5 separate regions of the Homo sapiens genome follow, and regions 1, 2, 3 and 5 are each linked to region 4. Evidence: fine-mapped expression QTL. A gene starts in region 4. Each other region holds a variant in brackets. All regions are shown on one strand. Distances are from middle to middle.

Evidence for each region. PIP is the estimated chance that this variant, and not a neighbour inherited with it, causes the effect.
Region 1: its variant is the best candidate, but not a certain one, in a credible set for the expression of CEP57 in lymphoblastoid cells (GTEx, PIP 0.62).
Region 2: its variant is the best candidate, but not a certain one, in a credible set for the expression of CEP57 in activated CD8 T cells (Schmiedel 2018, PIP 0.81).
Region 3: its variant is the best candidate, but not a certain one, in a credible set for the expression of CEP57 in whole blood (TOPMed, PIP 0.72).
Region 5: its variant is the best candidate, but not a certain one, in a credible set for the expression of CEP57 in whole blood (INTERVAL, PIP 0.79).

Annotation. Positions count from the first base shown.
Region 1 is chr11:95,941,316-95,945,438 of GRCh38, forward strand. No RefSeq gene overlaps it. Among named protein-coding and RNA genes, the nearest start is that of MTMR2, 19 kb to the left of the region's middle. The variant T/C (reference allele first, on the strand shown) is at 2,432.
Region 2 is chr11:95,746,830-95,750,952 of GRCh38, forward strand. No RefSeq gene overlaps it. Among named protein-coding and RNA genes, the nearest start is that of FAM76B, 41 kb to the right of the region's middle. The variant C/CGTGTGTGT (reference allele first, on the strand shown) is at 2,415.
Region 3 is chr11:95,767,013-95,771,135 of GRCh38, forward strand. FAM76B (family with sequence similarity 76 member B) reads right to left here. Exons shown (of 10, transcript NM_144664.5): 10 at 1,941-4,123. Among named protein-coding and RNA genes, the nearest start is that of FAM76B, 21 kb to the right of the region's middle. The variant T/C (reference allele first, on the strand shown) is at 1,686.
Region 4 is chr11:95,788,088-95,792,210 of GRCh38, forward strand. It overlaps CEP57 (centrosomal protein 57), which reads left to right and starts at 2,411. Exons shown (of 11, transcript NM_014679.5): 1 at 2,411-2,656. The coding sequence starts at 2,612. FAM76B (family with sequence similarity 76 member B) reads right to left here and starts at 1,695. Exons shown (of 10, transcript NM_144664.5): 1 at 1,305-1,695; 2 at 412-476. The coding sequence starts at 1,391. RefSeq lists a silencer at 1,303-1,722 and enhancers at 2,223-2,692, 2,656-3,319.
Region 5 is chr11:95,739,049-95,743,171 of GRCh38, forward strand. No RefSeq gene overlaps it. Among named protein-coding and RNA genes, the nearest start is that of FAM76B, 49 kb to the right of the region's middle. The variant T/C (reference allele first, on the strand shown) is at 2,419.

The DNA of each region.
Region 1 (4,123 bases), 150 kb after region 4:
CATGGTTCTTCCTTCTCAAGGGCAAAACTATAAATCTCCTTAGTAATTCTTTACAGCTCAAGGCCCAGTATTTGTGGGAGCAATGCAGTTCTCGGCATCATTTCCAGATATGGCTTCTTGTGCTCTGGTATTCTATACAACTATAAAAAAATTAGATTCACCTCCCCACTCACACATACCTTTATTATATGATGGTGGATCAGGAACAGGATTAGTACAATAAGAAATCATATTCAAAAAAGGAAAGACTGGGAAACAGTTGGTGATTTCTGGAAATTATAAGCTCCTGCTGGATAGGAATAATAAAAACTCCCTGTTTTAACAATAAATGTTTTGTTTAGCTCATTTGGCATTCCATATTTCTTTTCTCTGGGAGGAACACCTTTGTTCATTATTCTCCCTGGCCTGTTTGGAGTACGTTTTTCCTTGCCTATTTTGCTCCATGATACATTTGAGATAGGCATTGGAGAGAATTTATTTTGTGTGGAGGCAGGGAGTTCATCACATCTTTTGCAGCTATCTTCTAGATGCAAGTTTATAGGCCTTCAGGTTGCTTTAGCACTCAAATAATCATAGATTTTTGTATAATAGAACTGACTTGGTGCTTCTTTGCCAATATAATTTCCTCAAAACTTAGGCATCTGGTCTATATTTATTGTCAGTTGTGTGCATGTGTATATGTGTGTGTGTGTGTGTGTGTGTGTGTGTGTGTGTGTGTGTGTGTGTGTATATATATATGTATATATATATACAACAGCCAAAGGTTTCTATTAGAGTAGTTTAATGCATGAAAAGTCTGGTGTTCTCCTTTCTGCCCTCTGTACTCTGCTAGCTATTTTAAACAGAAAAGCATTTCAGATGGAATTAGATGCCTATAAAATCATGAAAGGGATGAAGTAGTGGATTCCAGGTAGCACCTTCAGAAATGATTCTCAGAATGACATAGCTAAACAGGCTTTGCAAAGGAACAGGCTTTAGCAGCCTGTGCTAAAATGAGGAAAGTGGAGATTTGAGAATGTTGCCATTAGAACTGATGCAATTACTATAAACAAGCTATAATCCAACGATCAAGAAACACAGAACTTCAAGGCTGGCAATCAGCCAAAACAGTAAATAGATTGTCTCTGTCTCACTACCATTTTCCAAGTATTTTGTGAATGCATCTAATTAACAGAACTGATGTTATATTCATGACTTTAGTATTTAAGAAAGTCTGAAAAATGTATTTTGTAGCTTTCCCACCTCTGCAGTTTTAGGAAGCCCACTAGAAAGAGTGTGTAAAATGCTGAGTGCCATCCACTATACTCACTACAATTCATCCCTTTGGCTATTGCACTTTCTTTTCTTTTCTTTCTTTCTTTTCTTTTCTTTTCTTTTTTTTTTTTTTTTTTTTTTTTTTTTTTTTTTTTGAGACGGAGCCTTGCTCTGTTGCCAGGCTGGAGTGCAGTGGTGCAATCTTTGCTCACTGCAACCTCCGCCTGCCAGGTTCAAGCGATCCTCCTGCATCAGCCTCCCAAGTAGCTGGGACTCCAGGCGTGCACCACCACGCCCAGCTAATTTTTTGTATTTTTAGTAGAGACAGGGTTTCACCATGTTGGCCAGGATGGTCTCGATTTCTTGACCTCATGAACCACCCGCCTCAGCCTCCCAAAGTGCTGGGATTACAGGCATGAGCCACTGCGCCCAGCCTGGCTATTTCACTTTCAGAAACACCATTCTACTACTACTTAAACTTCTAAATAATAATTGCACAACATATGCTTCCAGTCACAATGAAACTATTCATCATAGAGATAAAAACATGCTTCTATAAAAGGAGAAACCCAAAATCTCATCAGTATCTGTAACTATCTCTGAATGATGTTTACTCCTTTTCTAGTTAAATCACAACCCTGACATAATATCCTGTAACCAACCCAAGGATATTATGGCATTGAAAAATAATATTAATATGATTGAATAATAAAATCAATCAGTCATACTATATAAAACAATAGAGAGAAGAGAGATGAATGAATGAGAAAAACATAGACATAATAGTACAAAGAAGAAAATATGGGCAGCTTTTATAGGCCTTATTTCTGCAGTTTATCACCAAGACATTGATTACTACTTATAATTCTTTCTTCCCAAACTCCTATCCTGTCCTCTTTATCCTCCTTTATTACCTCAGCTAGTTGCTGTTCTTTGCCTTTTTAGATAATCTAAATGTTGGTTGCTGAAAGATATGAACATACAGAATTCCTGCCTGTATTGTGTGTCTGTAACGTTTCATTGTCTTTTATCATTGGATAGCAGTTTGATATGTTCTGGCTGTGGCCCCACTGAAATCTCATCTTGAATTGTAATCCCCATAATCCCCACATTTCAGGGGAGGGACCCAGTGGGAAGTGATTGCATCATGGTGACAGTTTCCCCCATGATGTTCTCA[T/C]GATAGTGAGTGTGTCCTCATGAGATCTGATGGTTTTATAAGTGTCTGACATTACCCCTGCTTGCACTCACTTCTTCCTGCTGCCCTGTGAAGAAAGTCCCTGCTTCTGCTTCACTTTCTGCCATGGTTGTAAGTTTTCTGAGGCCTCCCCACCCATGCAGAACTGTGAGTTAATTAAACCTCTTTTCTTTATAAATTACCCAGTCTCAGGTATTTCTTTATAGCAGTGAGTGAATGGACTAATACAGTAAACTGATACCACAGGAAGTGGTGTGCTGCTATAACGATACCCAAAAATGTGGAAGTGACTTTGGAATGGGGTAACAGGCAGAGGTTGGAACAATTTGGAGGGCTCAGAAGACAGGAAGATGTGGGAAAGCTCAAAACTTCCTAGAGACTTGTTGAATGGCTTTGTTCAACAAATTGTTCAACAAATCAATGGCTTTTTGAATGCTGATAGTGATATGGACAATAAAGTCCAGGCTGAGGTGGTCTCAGATGGAGATAAGGAACTTGCTGGGAACAGGAATAAAGGTGGCTTTTGCTATGCTTTAGCAAAGTGACTGGCAGAATTTTGCCCCTGCCATAGAGGTCTGGGAAACTTTAACTTCAGAGAGATGATTTAGGATATCTCACAGAAGAAATTTCTAAGCAAGAAAGCATTCAAGAGGTGACTTCGGTGCTCTTAAAAGCATTCAGTTTTATGCATTCACAAAGAGATTGTTTGGAATTGGAACTTACGTTTAAAAGGGAAGCAGAGCATAAAAGTTTAAAATATTTGCAGCCTGACGATGTGATAGAAAAGAAAAAGCCATTTTCTGAGGAGAAGTTCAAGCTGGCAACAGAAATTTGCATAAGTAATGAGGATCCAAATGTTAATCGCCAAGACAATAGTGAAAATGTCTCCAGGACATGTCAGATGTCTTCAAGGGACCCCTTTTATCACAGGCCCAGAGGCCTAGGAGGAAAAAATGATTTCGTAGGCTAGGCCCAGGGCCTTGCTTCTTTGTGCAGTCTCATGACTTGGTGCCCAGCGTCCTAGCTGTGAATAAAAGGGGTCAATGTACAGCTCAGGCCATTGCTTCAGAGGGTGCAAGCTCCAAGCCTTGGTGGCTTCCATGTGATGTTGGGCCTGTGGATGCACAGAAGTCAATAATCGAGGTTTAGGAACCTCTGCCTAGATTTCAGATGTATGGTAATGTCTGGATGTCCATGCAGAAGTTTGCTGCAGAGATGGAGCCTTCATGGAGAACCTCTGCTAGGGTAGTGTGGAAGGGAAATGTGGGCTCACAGCCCCCACACACAGTCCCCACTGGGGTATTGCCTACTGGAGCTATGAAAAGAGGGCCACTGTCCTCCAGACCCCAGAATGGTAGATCCACTGACAGCTTGCACCATTAACCTGGAAAAGCAACAGACACTCAACACCAGTCCATGAAAGCAGCTGGGAGGGGGCTTGCATCCTGCAAAGCCACAGGGGCAGAGCTGCTCAAGACCATGAGAGCCCACTCCTTGCATCAGCATGACCTGGATGTGACATGTGGTTTCAAAGGAAATTATTTAGGAGCTTTAAGATTTAATGACTGCCATGTTGGATTTTGGACCTGCATGGGGCCTGTAGCCATTCTGTTTTGGCCAATTTCTCCCTTTTGGAATGGATGCATTTACCCAATGCTTGTATCCCCATTGTAT
Region 2 (4,123 bases), 41 kb before region 4:
TTCCAGGGTCTGTATTTAATGTTTAATGAGGCCTCATCACTTTGGCCGGTTGGAACTCAAGGAACTTTCAGTCAAGTATGTTCTCTGGAAATTGCTTATTTTGCAGCACCCTAGTGGTTCCTTGCTTGGCATAAAGTTTTCATCCTTAGCATGCATAGCTTAGTTTTCAGCAACAGACTCAAGTGGACCTATATGCAAATTTCTGGTGCCCTTTCTCTGCATGGCTCCCTACTCTCCAGTTTCCTACTCTACAAACTACAGCTACCTCAGCCTCTTCAACCTGTAGTTTCTATGTCTTCAACACAACAAGACCACTGAGTTCTGTTTGGGTTCTCCTGCTATGTGCTGTCCCTAAAGTACAGAAAGCTGAGATCATTTTAGGGCCCACATTACTGATTTACCTTCTCTCAAGGATCACAGCCCTGTACTACCTTTCATCCAAAGTCTGAAGACAGTTGTTTAATACATTTTTGTACAATTTTCTAGTGTTTCTGGTAGGAGGCCAAGTCCAATTTCAGTTACTTTATGGAAGTCAAACACTGGTTTGATTGCTATTATACTCTAGGCAAAATGGTTTCTGATTTAAGTAAAAGTCACATTAATCTACAAAAGACAACCTTCTCCTTCAAAGACCATAATAATCTCTTTTTATCATTAAACAGACTTTGAGGAAGAGCAAAGAACAAATGGTCAAAGACGGTTGTTTTGGCAAGGTTTTCATAATAAAGTTTCTCCACCCTTTTCATTTAGCAGCAATCTCCTGCCTAACCACTTTTCCTCACCTCCATCCTTGGTTCTGGACTCCCATGTAGCACACTTTGCTCCTACTTTTTTCAAAATATCTCTCTACAGAATTTCTTGCCTAATTATCCATCTGTTCAGCCTCCAACTCCCCATTCAGGGACTATGTAGATGGGCTCCAGCAGTGGTGGGGAGACTAGCTCAGGGTTTATTGCTTTTTATCAAGGTAACACCTGTTCTTTTCAGCAAATGCCTTCCGGAGACAATAGTTCTGCCTTTCATGTTTAACCCAAAAGAAAACAGCTAATCAATAATCACTCCTCTTGGCCAGTCATTGAGACTAAACATTTTAATCAGATGAGGCTTTAAAATAAGTCTCCAGGAAGACAGTTAATAGAACTGGAGAACCTTTAATATATATCTCTCTCCTTCTAGTATCTGGAAGAGCAACAGAAGGAAGCATTCAAAACAATTCCTACCTAATTGACCTCTGAGGTTGATGCAGTTGTACGTGGCAAGGATGTACAGGTTGTTTTGTTTTGTTTTGTTTTACGATTTTAAGTATTTCATTGAATGGAATGTTTGGATTCATTTATTTATTAATGCAAGAAATGTTTATTTCACTCTTACTTTGTTTCACCTGCCTTGTGCTAGCCATTCCCTAATGATGAATTGATATGGTTTCTGTCACCAAGGAGCTCACAACCTCTTGAAGGAGCAAAACATAACAGGATCATTATAACATAGTGTGAGCTCATTTGATAGAGACATGCTTAGAGAGCTATATGAGCACAGAAGAGAGATTAATTCTCCATGCTTCCCATGACCGGGCACCATTTCAGTAATAGCTTATGGACAATATACCTGAGTTTCTCAGTATTGAGATGATAGTTTTAAACTAGTAATGTTGTAAGAGATATGAGGAACAGTGAATGAAACTTTACAAAATGAAATGGGTGTCTGTAGGGCCTGTGAGGAACTGCTGATTTAAGGCTAAGGGAGGATGTCTTCATGCTCAATGCTCAGATCATTATCAGAGACAAAGAAATAAGGCAAGAGAGCAGATTTGATGTAGTTAATTGGATGAGGGAGCAAGCCAGAACTCTGTTGGAAGGCTGAGTTATGATAGCCAACAAAGGAGAAATAGAATTGACTAAGAAGCATGTTCTTTATACAGCAGTAATGCCTAACCTGAGATCCATGAGTAGGCTTCAGATGTATTGGAGGAAAGGAACCTCCCCATCCCTGAAATTGTCTTCACATTTTTGGATGTGCGCACATTTGCATTTTTCTGGGAAAATGTTCCATAGCTTTGATCAGGTCATCAAAGTGTCACACAGCCCCTAAATATTAAGAACTACTGCTGCATAGTAACTTATCGTGTAATGGCAATGAGTTATAAAACCAAAAGCCTCAAATTTGAGACCTGCATCCTCCATGTTCTAGTTGTGTGACCTTGAACATGTCCTTTTATTCCTCTATGCTTACACTTATCATCTGCCTACCTTGTGGAATTATTGTGAAGGTCAAAGGGTTTCATGAAATAAAAAGTGCTACACAGTTGTTATCTACCAAGACAACAATTGACTTAAATAAATGCAAATACAATTTATTGGAAGTTCCTTATTACTCTTTTAAATATGGTAAATCCATTCTAGAGGTTAATACCTATC[C/CGTGTGTGT]GTGTGTGTGTGTGTGTGTGTGTGTGTGTGTGTGTGTAAACTTCCAAAAAATTTCAGTGTGAAAGTTTTCAAGCTTACACAAAAGGAGATAAAATTGTATAAAGAACTCCCATGTACTTCTCATTGGTTTCATAATATCAACATATATCCAATCTGGTTCACCTATAATCCGATCTCCTCCTCTTTCCCTCACTGGGCTATGTTGAAGCAAATCCAAGACATCATATTATTTTATCTACACATTGTTTAGGATATTTCTTAATAAATAAGGATATTCCTTAATAATTCCTTAATAAATAAAAATTCCTTAATAAATAATTTCTTTTGTTTCAAAATGAAATTAAGGAATTTATTAAGGAATATCCTATTTATTATTTATTAAGGATATTTATATTCCTCAAGGAATATTAAGGAATAACTATTAAGGAATATTTCATTTTGAAACAAAATGAAATTAACATTTTTGACATAACAACAATACCATCATTACACAGAAATATTAAGTAAATCCTCAACATCATCAGTGTTCAAATTTCCCTGGTTATTTTCTTGAGGCAGGATCCAAATAAGATTCACACTGAGCTTTTAGTTGCTAGGGCTCCAGATGTTAACTCAATCCCAACTTTTCCAGATTCTCCCATCTAGGGCCCTAAATACTCTTCCTTTGCAGCTCCTAAGCCAGCATGTAACATGCTGGAGATTATAGCAGCAGCCTCAGCCATCAGCAGTTGGATCCAGGAATGATTTTTGTTGTCAAAACCCTTATCAACAGAGATCGGCCTGATTTTCCTTTCAGCTTCTGCTTTGATTTCTCTGAAGAGCTCCTGACTATTTGACTATTGTTTTCATGACTATATATGGTGATTTTAAAACCTTCCTACAAATTCTTTGACGTTCCTCCCATTAAGAAATGGTGGCTGTACCCTACTTGAATCTAGATTAGTTTTGACTGCTTTACCCAATAAAGTACACTAGAAATGAGACAATGATTTACAAGGCTGGGCCATGAGTGATCAGGGAGCATCTATCTTTTTTGCTGGAACAGTCCACCAGAAGCCCAGACCACATGAAGAGGCCATACACAGGCATTCCAATTGAGAGTCCCAATTAAGCTTAGTCTTCATGGCATATCACCAGTCACCACAACTGTGGTTAAAAAAGTTTCCAGATGATTCCAGTCCCTGGCATATGAGTTATTCCAGATGTTTGAGTCTTCCCAATAGAGACCCTAGTTGTTATAAAGCAGAGAAAAACCATCCTTAAGTTTTATTAGAGAGGACACTCTCTGAAATCCTGATCAATAATAACCTTCAGCATAATAAAATGATTTATATTTTTATGCCACTAAATTTTGTGGTGGTTTGCTATACAACATTAGTAATGACACTAAGCCAGGCATGGTGGCTCACACCTGTAATCCCAGCGCTTTGGGAGGCTGACGCAGGCAGATTACTTGAGACCAAGAGTTCAAGACCAGCCTGGCCAACATAGTGAAACCCCGTCTCCACTAAAAATATAAAAATTAGCCAGGCATGGTGTCATATGCCTGTAATGCAAGCTGCTTAGAAGGCTGAGGCACAAGAATTGCTCGAACCCAGGAGGCAGAGGTTGCAGTGAGCTGAGATCACGCCACTGAACTCGAGCCTGGGCAACACAGCAAGACTGTTGAAATACATACATACATACATACATACATACATACATACATA
Region 3 (4,123 bases), 21 kb before region 4:
GCTGTGCATTTTTTTTTTCAATAAGCATGTATTGTTCAAATTGAGCGTAACTTGGCAGGCAGGGGTGATGGTGGTAGTGTTACTTGTTATTAAGAAAAAATTTACACAAAAGTTGAATATAGTATAATAAACCACCATATAACTATCACCCAGTTTCAAAAATTAACAACTCACACCCAATCCTGTTTCATTTATATTCTCGTATCTCCCTCCCTATACTATTTTGAAGCAAATACCAATCATCATACCATTTCATTATAAATATTTTAGTAGGTGTCTCTAGGACTCTAAAAAGATAGCTGCAACACCATCATCACATCTGAAAAGTTAACAGTACTTAATTCCTTAAAATCATTACATAACCAGTGTTCAAATTTTCAGTTCTCATACATGTTAAAAATTTTTAATTTCTTGATTCCAGATCCATATCAGGGTCACATATTGTGACTGGTTTATATTAAGTACCTTTTATACTATAGGTTCTCCCTCCACTGATTCCCTCTGCTTGCAACTTATTGAACAACTGTGCCAACTGTATCCTTTTGGTGTCACTCAACATGATCTTCCATCCTTTCTATTTTTGGTTAATTGGTAGATGCTTCGTCAGATTTAGGTTTGATTCTTTTTGGCAAAACTTTATAGGTAGCAGTGTATTCCTCCATCAGAAAGCACTTAAGAATGTGTTTGTGTATTGTCAGTAGCTGCTGATGACCAATCCTTAACTCCATGAGAGGTTGCAAAATAGTGATGTTGCAATTCCATCCTTCCTTTTTCATTAGAATGTTTTAAAGAGAAACTACCCCCCATCTACTACTTACCTACCCAATGGTATAGTTTGTATGGGAAATGCAGGGAATATTAAAATGATAGTTCTCAAAATGTGAGCTCTGGGCCAGAAGCAGCATTACCTGAGAACTGAGAACTGAAAATTCTTAGGCTCCATCCCAGACCCACTGAATCAGAAAACTGGGGATAAGGTCCAGCAACATGTGTTTATCATGCCCTCCAGGTAACTCTGATGTATACTAACGTTTGAGAAACAAGGGACTACACCTGAAGTCTTGAAATGCCCTTGCTAAAAGCTGTTAGCTTTTACTACACTTTATAATACCAAAGTTAGGTTCCAGATTTTTTCCCAAGCACAGTATCTGCCCACCTAGTCTACAAATGAAAGAATCACACCTTCAACTTTTAACTTATCAAACAATCTAGCATGGTACTAGTCATGTTCCAAAGCTTTCAAAAACTTAACTATAGCTTGAAATACTTGCTCAATTAGATGCAAATTTATTTCTTCCAGGAAAAATAACTATTGCACTAAAGTGGTCTGAATGGACAGACAGGAAAATAGTTTCTAATGTTTGGCCTAAACTTCTCTCATGTATCTGTTGTTTCAGGGTTTCATACTGGAAAAAGGGGGTAAAATGTAGATGAAGCTATGTAGGCTCAATAATGGTCCCCCAATATGTCCATGCCCGAACCCTTGGAACCAGTGAATACATTACCTTATATGACAATAGGGACTTTGCAGATGTGACTAGGTTAAGAACTCGAGATGGAAAAACTACGTTGTTTGTGCAGGTGGAGCCAATAATGTTCTCATAAGGTCCTTATGAGAGGGAACAGAGGGAGACACTCTGAGAAGGTATGATGACAGCAGCAGAGAGAGATTTGAGATGCTACAA[T/C]TTGGGCTTTGAAGATAAAGGTCAATGAGCTCATAGCATGCAAGGAATGCAGCTCTAGAAGCTGGAAAAGGCAAGAAAACAGATTTTCCCCTACAGCCTCCAGAAAGAAGCAATCCTGCCAATACCTTGACTTTAGACCAGTAAACCTGATTTTGGACTTCTGGCCTCCAGAACCATAAAAGAATTAATTTTTGTTGTATTAAGACACTAAGTGTGTGGGAGTTTGTTACAGCAGCCATTGAAAACTAATACAAAGCCTTTGACAAGTTTTTTATTGTGAAATATTGGATCTAGAAAAAAGTACAAAATGTCAACAGTCAGATGTGTACAAGTACAGTATTTCAATAGTCTATACATGTGAACAGCTTAACAGGTTCACTGCAGAATGCATATTTAGACCAATATAATCTAAAAAGGACTGCAATATTCACAGGCTATTAATACATAAATAACTTGAGTCAAAATGACCCTTACTGGTAAATGCTAATTAATAGTGGAAAACAGGCTAAAAGCACAATACACCACACCATAGTATCTCCTTACAGGTCCACATTTAAAGAATATCAGTTTATTATGTCAAAACACTACAGAGATCCAGGACTGGGACTGAATTACTAATTTATACAATTGCAAAAAAATTTAAGTTATAAAATAAGGTCATGGAATAAAGAAGGGTATTTAATTAGGACTAAATACTGTGAAGCCCATGAAAGGGTTTTAGCCTTGGAATTTACAAAGCTAAATTATTAGACTGTTAATGTTAGCTAACACTAAAACTGAATTACCTTCCATTTTAATGTTAGCTAATATTAATATTCAACTTTTTAATTTTGATGTTAGCTAAGGGGAAGGACGAGGACAACTTTCTTTTGTAGTTTCTCCAACAAGGTGTAAGAACTATCAAAAAGTAAAACCATAATGACCACTGTGGACTGACAAATGGCTATGAAACAAGAATATAAAACATTACAAATTTCAAAGAAAGGTAATAACTATCTTATGAATTTAGCAAATCCTGCAAACGTTAAAATCCATGTTAAGGCATTATCTATCATGGTTGAGAGTACTAAATTTAAGAAAATTATTACATGAAGATCCCATAAAAATAAACTGGTTTAGTTTACAAGATTCTAACTGAATCTTTTTGTATCACTTGAAAATTACCCTATATTATGCTTTCAAAATGGACAAAGAATTATTTGGTATTCACTTTATAATGAACTATGAGAACAGTCTATTGAAACACGTCATGTTAAAAAAAAATTGTTTCAATCATGTGTTCTTAAGAAAGCCAATCTTTGATATGACATTCACAATCAATGCTTGTATAAAACAAAACCTTTAAAACTTATAAATTTAGTAACAGTTTTACATGAAGCAAATTTATCTTTGCCCATAAATTATTAAGAGAAGCAACTCACTCTATACAGTGTATCTAGCAATACTTTAAAATCAAACTAAAACTCTGAACTGATAATAACTAGGAGATAAATTCTATTTCAGGCTGAAAACCGCTGGATCAGAATATAGTCAATAACTTCATATAACCTATCCCACCCTACCTTAACCTTTTATAGACAATTTTAAAGACTTTAGGACAATTTACTTATAATGCCTGAATCTTATAGTAGATTCCAATTTATTCAAAGATTATCACAGATTGGATTAAAAAGATCATTTAATTTTTTTCAGATTTGCTTTAAATTTACAAATTACATTGTACATAAATATTAACTTAGATAACCACACATAGGGAAAGCAGATACATGGATCATTGCAGAAACATTAAAATTTTTAAAAAATTTTATAAAATATAAAGCAAAACATGTAACTCACACAATACTAATATGAAGCCACATGACATAAAAAATAAAATTACTCTTTAAGAAGCAACTTAAAATTAAATCTTTGGGGAACTATTTTGACATAATTAAATGAATTCAAAGACCAACAGCTTCCCTTATCACACAGAAACAAATCACAAAATTTTCTACAATCTATATGCATTATCAGTTAGTTCTAAATGTAATCTCAAACATTTTACTAGCAACTTTGATTTCCTTTTGAAATAGGCTTCTGTACATATGCATTTATATACAAACATTTATTAAACATGATTTTAAAACAAAATGTATGTACAAAAGATCAGCATTCCTATAAATAAAAACATTAGGTGGCAAAAAGGCACTTGTAAGTAAAAATCTACAGTAGTTTTTACAAAACAGAAACACATTTTACCTTAGATACTGTACAATAAACATTAATTCCTATACCAATAATGAAAATGCTAGGTTACTAATGTTAATGATGTAACTTTAAAAAACAAATTTACATATATCTGAAGTTCATTTAATAAAAGCACCGTGATTTTCTCCTAAATTCATCTTGATGCAAAGTAAAAACACAATTCCCAAAAAACCAGTGTTCGCCATTTTTCG
Region 4 (4,123 bases):
GAACTGTTAAAAATGTTACGTACTACTCCTCTTCTATGTAACAAATTATTAGATTTTCACCTTGGAAGGCAGTTGGTAACACTACAGACCTTTCCTCAGATCCATTAAGGCTTTACCATTTTTTTTTAGTTTAACATAACTGTTTACATTTGCATTTTCATTAGCAAGGCTGTACATTTTCCATGTAGTATTATTCCTTCTCTCATATAAAGTCTAACTGTAAATTAACCACCACTGGTTTTTTTCGCAACATTCTCTCTCCCACCATGTATAAAAGGTTTACAACTTAAAATTTCTGGGGCTAAACCATTTTTTAAAAATACTTTCATAAAAACATGGGATTACAACCCCCAAGTATTCCATAAAGACAACACTTGTCTTTAACAGTCAAAAACTATTCAGTATACAAACCTCTCTTGTTGAAATTCTGATCTGCAGTAAGTACATTTTACAATAGGATGTGCAATCCGACATTCCTGTAATAAGACAATACATTAGTCAGTATCTTTCTGAAAGTCCCAAATCTCACTTTTCTGGTAGAAAACTGTTTACCCAACCTAGTGAAAGTCTAAAACATTTATAAAACCTGGCCCCAACGTAAAGAACTGGATGCTTTATCATATAAGTGGCCAATCACAATATAATTCCTTAGGGAAGGCACAGGTGTCTTTGTCTTTAGTAGACGTGGGGGTATATTACAGACAAATTAAGAAAGCTGTCAGGGCCTATTTCAAGGATTGGTTAAATGTGAAACTACTTATTATTTTGCACCGTTGCTCACAGACAGCATCCAGGCTTTAATGGGATGGGAGGAGCTCCAAATCAGAGCATTCTGTTCCCAAACCAGTCGCTTCGCTTTCCTGGACAGGGAAGAAGGATGCCATCAGCTTTGCGGCTTCGGGTTCCTAGCAAGAAAGTGCAAAAACCGTCCCCTGCCTCCTGGTGGAAGAAGAGGACAGACCAGGCAGAAAACCGAGATGAAAACATCTCCACCCCTGGGTCTCTGCGGCATAGACAGGTGGCTGCCTCACTCAACCCCACTCCTGAGACCCCCAGACGCTGACGGGGCCCGGCACCCTCCTGGGCCGCCTGGAAAAGGGCACGATTCTGCCTCCCTTTCAGGGTCCGTTCCCAGCTAATGTTCAAGCCCCCAGAAAAAGGGGTCCCCGAGTGGGGAGGCGAGGGCTCCAGACTCCCAAACCCCTGAGGCGCCGGCGAAGAGGGGCTGCAGTGCAGCGGCTACCCGGCCCCCTCCGGCTACGGCCGAGGACACCCATCCCGCCCGCCTCCCGGAGCCCACGGACCTTGCAGAGCTGCTGGCCCTGGGAGAGCTCCTCGAAAGGATAACGCTGGGTACACTTGGTGCAGGCGTACAGGGCCGAGGCCGCCATCCTGCTCCTCAGTCTCCTCCTCCGCCGCCGCCCGCTCCGAGGCGGGGCCCTACGGAGAACCCGAGAGCCGCCGCCGCCCGGGCCGCGGGCTCCTCCTCCTCCCCCTCCCCCTGCCTCGCGCCCACCAGGGCCTCGCCGCGAGAGCCCAGGGCCCCGCGGACGACGCCACCGTCTCCCTCCGCCTCCACTTCCGCCCCAGCCCACCCAGTGACGCCGTGCCAGCCGCTCCCGCTTAGGCCCCGATAGCGGCGGAGGGAGACGAAGCGGGTAGGGGGTTGCTGTTTAGCTGTGCGGCCGTGGATCCGCTTCCTTCTCGGCCTCCCTTTCCCATCCCTGATTGGCTGCGAAGGCTATCGCGTCATTCGATGGCTCCTCCCAACTCCCAACTTCCGCGACGCAGGAAGCGCCCACAAAGGGAGGATGTCGCCGGCCAATGACATCCCGGAGCTCTCAGCGCGCGAAATCCGCTTTGAACCTGCCCCGCCCAAAGGTCTGCGGTCGCGGCTATTTCTAACAGCCAGTCCCAGGTTTGGCTGAGAGCGCCCCAATCCAATTGAGCAAATGTTCGCGAAAGGCTCGTTCTCTGCCGCAACTTTTTTTCCCTTGCTTTCTATTGGACTAAATCGTTAAGTCCCTCCTAATCCTATTTGTTATTGGCCAAAAGGTAAATACTTCACCTGGAGAGGCGTCCCCGAGGCAAATTCACGCTCTCTCCGGCGTTTAATCCGAGGGAACTCGTGGAGTGCTTTAACTTCGCCTTCGCTTTTGTTTTATCTCCATTACTCCCTTCAGTTGCCACTGGCGACACCACTACTCGCCCACGCTTCTTACTGGAGGAGGCCCGACCCTCCGTAGAATCCCCGCAGAGCCGGCCTGTAACCCCGGCGTTGTCTGCCCCAGCGGGCCCCGTTACGCGCTACCTTGTGACGTCACCAGGGAAGAGGCGGATTCTCTCCTACTACAGAAAGACGTCTGCTGTTTTGATTGGCTAGGAAAGACGTCCGTTAGGACGTGTTGCCCTTTCTGTGTAAGCTGTGAGCGTAGGCGGCCCTGAGGGGGTGTGTTGCAGGGGTTTCCAAGCCCAGCACCAGCACCCTTGCCCTTTTCCATCAGGGGTTCAGCCTAGGGTCCCCGCTGGTGGGCGGCTCCCGAGTCTTGGAGAAGAGCACGAGAACCTAGACCGCCCCCGAAGTGCGGAGACCCCCTGGGCAGGCTGAAAGATGGCGGCGGCGTCTGTCTCTGCGGCTTCTGGTTCTCACTTGTCGGTAAGAAGCAGTTGGCGCGAGTGGGCCCCACGTCGGCCCTAAGCGCCTCTTTGAGTTTCCTCACGTTTCAGGGCGCTGTCAGTCCAGCTTCTGACGCAATTCTGGAGGTCGGCGGGAATGCCTAGATTGCCCCGCGCTCCCCAAGCTTCCATTCACTGTGGCTGTGTCGAAGCTGCACCCTCTGGCTCCCAGTGAAACTGGGCTGGCCGCCCCTGTTCCCCAGCCCTTATTCACCTTTTGGCGTAGCAACCAACCCCGGTTGCCTAACATTCCCAAGGGCCGGCTGGGATAACTGCCCACTCCCTGGCCTGCAAAAATGTAGCTCTTTTGGTCACGTGGGTTCAGCGGCCCCTCTAGGAAACTCGCCAGATCAGGTGAGGCGCGCCAGTGTGTTTAAGAGACGTTGCAGAATAGTAGTCCGCCGTCTCTCGAGCGCTTACTAGTCGTTGCTTATGCTGTTTCCTATCCCTGCAGTGCCTCCCACTCCCATCCACATTAACTTCGTTGTGTGATGCTCGTAGCCAGAACGCGCGCTTCCTGTCACCTAGAATTACTGGAACTTCAATGTGGAAATGCCCTTTTGGAGAGGCGACAGGGGGAATTGATTTTAAATATTGTTTTCGCCTCATCAAATGTCACCATCCAGTTTAGTTACTGGTATTCACTGGTATTTCTCAAATTGGAGTGTCGAATGCTTAGGTTTTTGAAAACCGCGGCATTGGAAAGCTTTGATAGGAAGTAAATGTTGGAGCTCTTATTTCTCCAGTTAGCAAATGTTCGATGCCTGGTATACTGTTAGGGTCCAAATGAACAGAATAGAAACCCTGCTTTGAAGGAGAAAAACACTGAAGAGAAACTACACGTAATTAGTGATTACTGCGCAGTATAGTTTAGGAAGTGCTACCGTAGTAGAATAATCTAGAGGGGAGTGATTAACAGTGCTTGGGTAGGCTAGAGAAGGTTTCCTAGAAGGGAAGATGGAGCTAGTTGCGTGTCGAAGGAATTGTGATTGCTTGTCCCAAGAGTAGAGAAAGGAGAAAAAGGCAGTGCGGGAATTTTGGAGTATGTGCTAGAACAGTAGGTGCTTTTAGGAAACTTGAGATAGTTCGGAATGAGAAGAAGTAATACGGAGGTAGAGCTGGATGAGGTGAATTGGAAACGTAGGTAAAAACGTGAAAAAAGAAGGATGGTGAGGGAAGGAACTAGAAGAGTATCAGGGTAAAGTTATTTTCTAGGATCTAGGGGGAAAGAGTTGGAAACGCTAAGAAAGCCTGGTCACCTTGGAGAAGTCAGTTTCAGCTTTTGGAGACTTGTTAGAATTTGTAATAATGGGACTAGAAGTATTACAGTGTTTCAGCCGAATGGGAATTAGAAGTTTGCAGAGAGGTCTGGGGAAGTTAAGGAGAAGTAAGGAAAGCAGCAATTTAAGGTTATTCAGGATTAGGTCAGTAAAAGAAAAAAGTAAAA
Region 5 (4,123 bases), 49 kb before region 4:
AGATTGATAATTTTATTACCTTCTTTTAGAGAGTACCAACACATGTAAGGCTGCCCAGGATGCTGAAAAATCCTGCACTACAGAAATGCATTCAACCTTGTTCAGTGCAGAACCTCTCAGATGAATTTCACCAAAAGCTCTTTTTTAAGGGGTTTTAAAATTATTCTTAACATCAAGACGAACACTTTGGGCCACACTACCACAGGTCTGTGAATTTAGCTGAGGGCAACTCACACCCCTAGTGGCCATCAAGCCCTAAAGGAAGATGCAATTCAGAAATATACCCCCATTTGGCTGGTGGGTCACTTCTGAAGTCTGAGTCCAGCTTCCCTTCACCATCTGTCTTTTAATGTCCAGTACTAAGCACAGGCCTTAGTTAATTGAACATGCAAAGTGGAACCCACAGGCAATGATCTCAGTATATATTTTGACTCATCATCCAAAGAAATCAGAGATGAAAGCAACATCTAATGGCTGAGAATACATAAATAGCCATTTCCACTCACTTTCAATTACCCTGCAGAGGAATCTGGTCACAGATGAGCTCAGTAAATTCACAATATGTTATCCTCAATAGCTAAGCTGAGCAAAATCACCCAATTTGTTAGAACATTAATCCTCTAAAAGCCTGCCAACCCTAATCATTTTATGGCTTCACATTGCTTAATGGTAAAGATAAGAGGATCCCCAGGGATGCCCAGGTGTGACCTTCAGTGAGTCAAGTGCAGACAGTCTCCTGAGAATGTAGATGGATATTGTATGGCCTAAATATCCAGCCTATAGCTAGTGTGGTCAGTGTTCTAACTCTCCTCTGCACTATGTGCCTTTCACAGTCATCCTGGAGGAATTTCCAGTCCTTTGAAACTGGGGATTACAATGTATTTATTTCTGAATCCCCAATGATTGGCATAATATCAGATACCTGGAAGTCACACATTTAACAAATATTTGTTAAATGAAAAATCAAATAAGTGATAGTAGGCAGTTACCTTCAGCAAATACACTCACCATACATATGTACATACATAAAGGATGGGGTTCTTTTTTATATTTCTCAATCTGAACTGGGAGGTGAAGTCTCTCTTTGCTTGATTCTACCTGTGAGGGGAATCGTTCTGAAGTGCTGATACCTTAAGAGCACAACTGGCAGAATTGTGGAAAGCACCATAATCTACAGGTTTAAATCTTAGGTCTGTCTCTTAGTAGCTGTGTGACTTTGGGCAAGCTAGTTATTCTTTCTGTGTCTCAATGACCAAACTGTCAGATAGGAGTGATAATCAAGGTTGTCATGAGATAGGAATAAATTATATGCAGCTATGCATCACATAACAATGCTTCTGCCAACAACAGACTGCATATGCAATTATGGTCCCACAAGATTATAATGGAGCTGCCCTATACAGATATACCATTATTTTATCTCTTGCGCTGTATTTTTACTGTATTTTTTCTATGTTTAGGTATGTCTAGATACACAAATACTTACCATTATGTTACAATTGCCTACAGCATTCAGTTTAGCAGCATGCTGTACAGGTTTGTAGCCAAGCAGCAACAATAGGCTGGACCACCATATAGCCTAGATGTGCAGTAGGCTATTACTATCTAGGTTTGTGTAAGTACACTCTATGATATTCACATAATGATAAATGTGCCTAATAATCCATTTCTCAAAGGACATTTTCATCATTAAATGATGCATAACTATATATATAAAATATATATGTGTGTGCACACACACAAATATCTGTATGCAGCATGTGTCTTTATATATGACATATACTATATATATATATATATATATATATATATATATATGAAAGAAATGTGTAGTACACAATGAACACAATATAAGCCTGGGCTATTACTGTTGAAAGGTTGGGAGTAGAACACTAAGGAGTTTATGCACCCTTGCTCCCATGAAAATTGTTCTTTCTTTCTTTCTTTCTTTTTTTTTTTTTTTTTTTTTTGAGACAGAGCTTCGCCTTTGTTGCCCACGCTGGAGTGCAATGGCATGATCTCGGCTCACTGCAACCTCTGCCTCCCAGGTTCAAGCGATTCTCCTGCCTCAGCCTCCCAAGTAGCTGGGACTACAGGCATGCACCACCACACCCGGCTAACTTTTGTGTTTTTAGTAGAGATGGGGTTTCACCATGTTGCTCAGGCTGGTCTCGAACTCGCGACCTCAGGTGACCTGCCTGCCTCGGCCTCCCAAAGTACTGGGATTACAGGCATGAGCCACTGCACCCAGCCTAAATTGTTCTTTCTTAATGCTTTGTTCCCTTTTGGTATCTCTTAAAACTCACTTCTCACAATGTAAATGCAGCATGAGGAGCTAAAATCCTGACAAGGGATAGCATATATTTGTCTGGCCTTTCCCTCTACTCAGATTTCTCTGGGACCTATAGAAGTGTTGTC[T/C]GGTCAAGAATATTAGTTACCATATGACAGACTTTTGCACTTTTGCCTTCCCTTTTCTTCATCCTGGGGATATCTCATCACATCACCCACTGCTCAAAGGGCATGATAAATTCTAGCCAGGCAAAGCCCCCATCGCTGTACCAAAGGAGCTATATTCTCCTCCTAACCTAAATAGTGAATCAGTGTAACATAAACTTATATGACTAGTAAAATGGTTGCTGCTAGCTGACCAGCGGTCCTGTCAGGGAGTCATGCATTGTCGTGGTCTTTCAAATCAACTTAAGGTATGAATTATACACAATAAAGTGCACCTATTTCTTATATTTATATGTGAATGAGATTTGACAAATGTATAACCTCTATAACTACCACAGTCATCAATACATTTCCATCATCCCAAAAAGTTCCCTTGTCCCCTTGGTAGCAAATTATCGCCACCCTAGTCCCCAAGCAACCACTTATCTGTCACTTTAGTTGAGTTTTTGTCTTTGCTAAAATTTCGTACGTTTGCTTTTGTGTATTTTCTTTCATTCAGTTTATTTTTGAGTCATTTATGTGTTACATGTTTAAGTACTTTGCTCTTTTTTATTGCTAAGTAGTAATCCAGTGTGTGAATATACTATAATTTGTTTATTTATCAACCTAGTCATAGACATTTGAGTTGTTTGCTTTTTTTTTTTTTTTTTTGGCTGTTATGAATAAAGCTGCTATGAACATTCATGTAAAATTTTTTATGTGGACATATGCTCTCTTTCTCCTGTGTAGATTCCTAAACAGCATTGCTGGTCCTATGATAATTGTATTTTAACTTTATAAGAATATGCCAGACTGTTTTCCAAAGTGTTCTATCATTTTATATTCTCATAACTAATTTATGAGTTACAGTAGCTCCACATTTTGTAAATACTTCGTATTGTCAATCTCTTTAATTTTAGTAATTCTAGTGAATCCGTGATTGTATCTCATTGTGGTTTTTTTTTTTTTTTTTTTTTTGAGACGGAGTCTTGCTCTGTCGCCCAGGCTGGAGTGCAGTGGCGCGATCTTGGCTCACTGCAAGCTCCGCCTCCTGAATTCACGCCGTTCTCCCACCTCAGCCTCCCGAGTAGCTGGGACTACAGGCGCCCGCTACCATGCCCAGCTAATTTTTTTGTATTTTTAGTAGAGACGGGGTTTCACCGTGTTAGCCAGTATGTTCTCGATCTCCTGACCTCGTGATCCGCCCGCCTCGGCCTCCCAAAGTGCTGGGATTACAGGCGTGAGCCACCGCGCCAGGCCCTCATTGTGTTTTAATTTGCACTCCCTGATGATTAGTGATGTTCAGCATCTTTTCATGTGCTTATTGGCCATTTGCATATCTTCTTTCATGGTGAATCTGTTGAAATCTTTTGCCCATTTTCTACTTGGGATTTTTTTATCTTCTCATTGAATCCTAAGGTTCTTTTATGTTTATATACAAATCCTTTGTCAGATATACTTTGAAAATATTTTCTCCCAGTTTGTATTTGCCTTTCCATTCTCTTAATGGTCTTATGAGCAGAATATTTTAATTATGATAACGTTCTATTTTTCCATTTTTTCTTCATATTCCATGCTTTCTCTGTGCCTAAAACATCCATGCCAACGCAAAGTCACAAATATTTTCTGATATTTTTCTTCAAAAAATGTCATAAGTTTAGCATTATGTTTAGGCCTATAAGCCATGTCA